2 separate regions of the Homo sapiens genome follow, and region 1 is linked to region 2. A link means that fine-mapping ties the variant in region 2 to the plasma level of a protein whose gene starts in the linked region. Region 2 holds a variant in brackets. A gene starts in the other region. All regions are shown on their forward strands.

The links. PIP is the posterior inclusion probability: the model's chance that the variant is causal. The UK Biobank Pharma Proteomics Project read protein levels with antibody pairs (Olink). The fine-mapping took linkage between variants from a reference panel, not from the people measured, so its PIPs are less certain.
Region 1: it holds the start of IL15, and the variant in region 2 is fine-mapped to the plasma level of the IL15 protein (UK Biobank, PIP 0.93).

Annotation. Positions count from the first base shown.
Region 1 is chr4:141,634,973-141,637,988 of GRCh38, forward strand. IL15 (interleukin 15) reads left to right here and starts at 1,611. Exons shown (of 8, transcript NM_000585.5): 1 at 1,611-1,776. RefSeq lists an enhancer at 1,524-1,613.
Region 2 is chr1:64,845,456-64,847,955 of GRCh38, forward strand. JAK1 (Janus kinase 1) reads right to left here. Exons shown (of 25, transcript NM_002227.4): 13 at 2,077-2,220; 14 at 1,194-1,281; 15 at 58-185. Among named protein-coding and RNA genes, the nearest start is that of RAVER2, 100 kb to the left of the region's middle. RefSeq lists enhancers at 829-1,330, 1,148-2,347. The variant C/T (reference allele first, on the strand shown) is at 1,230.

The DNA of each region.
Region 1 (3,016 bases), not on the chromosome of region 2:
TGTCCTCTGGCAGCAGCAATATCTGATATTGAGCTCTGCTAGGTGGTGCTGAGCGTGGACACCTGCTTCCTTCACCGGCTGCAGAGAACACAGTATCCATTAAAGGAGCTGAAAGAGGTGCTAGAGGAGTTTACATGGCAGGAGTCCAGGAAGCTCTGCAACAGTCCAAAATGAGGTTGGGACACATGATACACTTGTTCATCCCTATTCTCTATCTTCACACATATGCATATCAGTCCTTCCGTGGCTGCTATATTCTTGTGGTGAGATCCAAACCAGCTGCAGTCTTGCTCTCCCAGTGCATGCTCATTCTGCAAATCAGAGCTTCAATGTATTGCTATGAAAAATTCTGACTGGTCTTGAAATCCATTGACACCATCACAAGAAAATTCAACATGACATCGTCATGAACAGAAATGGATGATGGCTTCATATTCTTAAATATAATTTCCAACTATGGTGAAATTTTGAATGGTTGTAAAAACTGTTTTTGCATTTTTATACCTCACTTATTTTGTTAATGGAGACTATCTAGAGTTTGATGTAATTCTCATCAAAAAGTCCATCAGTAATTATTTCAAATATAAAACTGATATCAAAAAATTGAGTTAATGAAAATAAACTCAAATTTTTCATAAAAATATGAAATTATATTATACGGAACTTTATGTACATGGAAAGTGAATAATTTCTATTATTTTTCTATTTGATATTTATCATATTTATGTAATTAAAAACATAATTAAATTTTAAACTAAATTAAACTGCGCTCCAGGAAGACATCATTTTCTCTGAACCATGACTCTGAAAATTTGGAAAGCACCGTACAAGAGGGATTTTCAGTGATTCACAAGAGTGCAAGATTCTGCAAAGTACTTTCAAAACTAAGCGTGAGATCTTTGCTACTGCCTTTATGGCATGCAAATCACTCAGCCTCAACTCAGTTCCTTCCTCCAATGTAAAAATACTACAAGAACAACATCTCACGCTTCCATCAAATGGGACCATGTGTGATATTTTACACTGGACTACACAATAGGCTGGAAAAGTGATCCGCAGAGAGGCTCATTGCTCTAAGTTCACTCCCTGTACCAACTGTCTTGCACAAAGCTGCCACCCGGGTGTCTTCTTCCAACATTTCCCCTAGTTGGACTTCAAAGTTTCCTTCTTGCAGCCTGTGCGGGGACCAAGAGGCCGGTCTAGAGTAGCCGCCCAGCATCCAGATCCGACATCCTTTTCCCTTTCCTCAGGAAGACTTGGATGCGCGCCAGCCCAGCCCGGGTCTCCAGGTTCAGCTGCGGAAGCTTCCCACATGGTGCCCGTCGCTTGGGATGCGGCTATCCTTGTGCCTTCTCTGCAGGTGTCCCGGCAGGTAGAGGAGGAGACCGGTGGCTGGTGTTCCTGCAGGGCGGGGCTGGGGCTCCTCGATGTCCTTGCGCTTGCCCTGCAAGTTCTGCGCCCCAGGCCCCGGCAGGGACGGAAACAGGCCGGGAAGCAGTGACACCTGGGGCAGTCAGTCATCCAGGAGCCGCCGCCACCCGCCCCACCCCCAGTCTCCGCGGGAGGTGTTTGTCTTCGCCTATGCTCCCGGCTCTTTCTCTTTCACTTTTCTTTTCGCCAGGGGTTGGGACTCCGGGTGGCAGGCGCCCGGGGGAATCCCAGCTGACTCGCTCACTGCCTTCGAAGTCCGGCGCCCCCCGGGAGGGAACTGGGTGGCCGCACCCTCCCGGCTGCGGTGGCTGTCGCCCCCCACCCTGCAGCCAGGACTCGATGGAGGTACAGAGCTCGGCTTCTTTGCCTTGGGAGGGGAGTGGTGGTGGTTGAAAGGGCGATGGAATTTTCCCCGAAAGCCTACGCCCAGGGCCCCTCCCAGCTCCAGCGTTACCCTCCGGTCTATCCTACTGGCCGAGCTGCCCCGCCTTCTCATGGGGAAAACTTAGCCGCAACTTCAATTTTTGGTTTTTCCTTTAATGACACTTCTGAGGCTCTCCTAGCCATCCTCCCGCTTCCGGAGGAGCGCAGATCGCAGGTCCCTTTGCCCCTGGCGTGCGACTCCCTACTGCGCTGCGCTCTTACGGCGTTCCAGGCTGCTGGCTAGCGCAAGGCGGGCCGGGCACCCCGCGCTCCGCTGGGAGGGTGAGGGACGCGCGTCTGGCGGCCCCAGCCAAGCTGCGGGTTTCTGAGAAGACGCTGTCCCGCAGCCCTGAGGGCTGAGTTCTGCACCCAGTCAAGCTCAGGAAGGCCAAGAAAAGGTACCGCAGCTCCCCACTTCCTAACTGCTCCCGTCCCAAACTCATTGTGGGCCGGTGCAGATGTCTGTGCGTGCGCGTCTATCCCTACCTTTGCAAAATCAAATTATCGCCCTCTTCTTTGCTTGCACACGTCTTCTGGGAGAGAAATTTGCAGGAATGGTCAGTGCTTGGCAGTCAGGCCTGGGTCTGTATTGGTTCCAACTCTGCGCCAGCCAGTTATCTCTTAGAGAAGCGATAGTGTATCTAGAATGTCGAAGGAACTTGGAAAAAATACGAGCGAATTTCACTGAAATAAAATCATTATTCAAGGTGGCTTTTAAATGAAAATCCAGCCAATTTTTTCAAGTGTTATTAAGACCGCATGTAGCAAGGGTATATAGTTCATTTGACTTTATGTAATTCCATGCATTAAAAACTATGTTGACTTCAAAGTATGTCTAAACCAAACTAATTCTTAAATGATGCTTACAACAGATTCTTAAATAGGATGAGTCAGCAATTTCAAAACTGGAAGTAAAGTGGTGGTCACCAGCTAGTTTCCATTATATATTTTTAAACTACTATCTAATATTATGATACTGGTGGTGGCCAACTAAGTGGACGTCATCCTTATCTTGTCAGTGTGGTGAAAGAGGCCATATTAGCTAGGCTGAATTTTTGCTCAGGTATTACAGAATAAACTGGTGATTATGCATCCTGCCATGTAGAGGTTATAAGGTGAACCATTCTACTGAAAGCATCAAGATACAATACACTTTTGGAAG
Region 2 (2,500 bases):
CCTCCCAGGACACTCTGGTTTCTGGTGGGACCATTATGGACATCAGGACATTCTCACCAAGTAGCTCAGGGCACTGGCCAGCTGTTTGGCAACTTTGAATTTCCATGGTGTGGTAAGGACATCGCTTTTCCGGTGCATGAAGAGATCCAGAGGACCCCCTTCCACAAACTCTTCCACCATGATATCTGTAGGCATAAAAATAGCCATGTCTGGAACCTGGTCTGTGGCACGGTCCTCTCCTTCATCCCCTTACGACAGTCCACTTCAGTGGACACTACTCGGCCTCAGAGTACACAGATATCCTTGGGGGGTGCAATGGTGCAGGGGCTTCAGAGCTGGAAAGGCCAAGTTCAACCCCAAGCTCTTCTTCTAAACGGTGGCACTGAGCAAGTGACACTTCTCTGAGCCTCAATTCCCTCATCTGTAATAACAGATGGCGGCTAAATGTCACAAGGCCTGGAAAGCCTTGGCGGAGGGCCTGACACAGAGAACAAGGGCTCTGGGAACAACCGCCACCACTGCTGCTGTTCTACAACACACTGTGATGCAGAGGTCAGGCCGCTCACACGGCAAAACTTCCCTCTCAACAGGACTCCTGTGTGAGTACACGGAACAGCTCACATTGTTGGATTCCACAGGGAAGAAGTCACTTGGGGTTAAAAAAAAAATCGCTCTTCTTCCAAACTTACATGTCAGGAACTCAGAGGCCAAGGCCACCCCTCCATCTCAGTGTGCAGCAGCAGCCCAAGGGCCCACCGGCTCAGTGGCTTGACAACCAAGAAAGGGCCAAGCCTGCCTGTGGTTAAAATGGAAGCCAGTCCATTCGAGGAGCCAGCGTCTTGCTGCTTGTGGGGTGCGCTCACCTCGCTCACCTGCCCAGAGCTCCTTGGGCCTGACTCTTGTGGCCTTGACCTCATTTCACTCACCTCAGCCTCCCAGGTCTAGCACAGTGTAGGGTTCTTGGCCAGCGTTGACAAGAAAACATTACACAAATGAATGAAAAGCAATTGGTTTTAGTTCCACCTCCACTATTAACTTAAGCAAATGACCTGCTCAGTCCCTCAATCTCCTCAACTGCAAAAAGAAAGGCAAGAAGCCTGGGCAACGTGAGGGTGGGAAGAGCCTCCACCATCTCCACAGCACCCAAGCTCCCCAGCCAGGCCACCCACCCCTTTGAAAGAGAACACACTTACTCTCCACGTCGCGGACACAGACGCCATAGAGGTACA[C/T]GATGTGTTTGTGGGAGACCTGTCTCATCATGCTGGCTGCCTCGAAGAAGGCCTGTGGGCGAGCAGGACATAGGAATGTCTCAGGCCAGCCTCCAGGGGGCTGCTCCCCAGGGGCTCTGTTGAGGGGAAAGCCAGTGGACCCAGGAAAGCTCACCACTGTCGCCACCCCAGGCCCTGAACATCAATCCTCTGGCCTTGGCTGTCCAGAGGCACTGCCAAGCCTTGTTCTCTGGGCCAACCTGGCAGGGATGTGAGGTTTATTTAGAAAACCTAACAGGATGCAGAGCAGGGCTGGTGGGAGAAGCTGGCTAAGAATTTTCCCACTGGATACTCATGCCCACCTCTCTCTCTTCCTTTCAGCTCTGGGAAATACCCATATTTAGCACTATGCTGGAACAAAGGGGAAATGAAGGCAGCCGATCTCTGCTCAAGATTTGACTGTGTCACTCTAATAGTCTGTAGAATCCTGGGTGAGTCCTTTTACTCCTCTGGGCTTTCGTTTTCCAGACTGTGTGGTGAGAGCCATGGACTGTATCAGGAACTTTGAACCATTTGGCCAGAGTCCTAGGGCTCCACAGCACAGCCACCTGGACCTGTCCTTAGGAAAGGTGGGGGTTGGGGGTGGAAGGGAGGGCACAGGCTGAGTGTGAGGAGCTGTTCAACCCACCTCACTTACTCTACATGCAGGGTCCACTAAGATCATATGTGGAGAAAAAAATTCTGAGTAAAAGGCAAGTTTGAAAACCACTGGGCCACAAGAAGGGCAAGGGTTCTTCTCAACCCATTGTGTTCCACTGGCTCCAGAAACGGGAGAGGGGAGGGGAGGAGTTCAGAGGAAGACACTTGCCAGGGAAATATCCCTGTGGCTGGGGTCTAAGACTTTGAGGATCACTTTTATCTTCTTCTCTTCAGAAGTTCCTTCGTCATCCTTGTAATCCATCAGGGTCCCAGAATAGATGTGTGTTCTCGTGCCTCTCCCAAGGTGCTCGCCCTGAGGGAAGAAGCAGAAGGCTGGGTGACCTCTCTGTGCCCTGAAGTGATGGACCGTCTGGGAATGGGTCCTCAATGGGAACATGGACTATCAATGGGATGGGGCAAAGGCAAGAGGGCTCCCTGCCCCAGCTCGTGGTCCCCAGGCCTCCAGAGAAAACAACAAGCTATTTGGCCAAACACAGTGGTGACATTTGCTGGGCCCCAGGAGACAGTCCTCCTACTCCCTAAACGGCTCCTTGCTTTCTACCCCTAGGAACAGCCTTTGGCCAAAACACAGT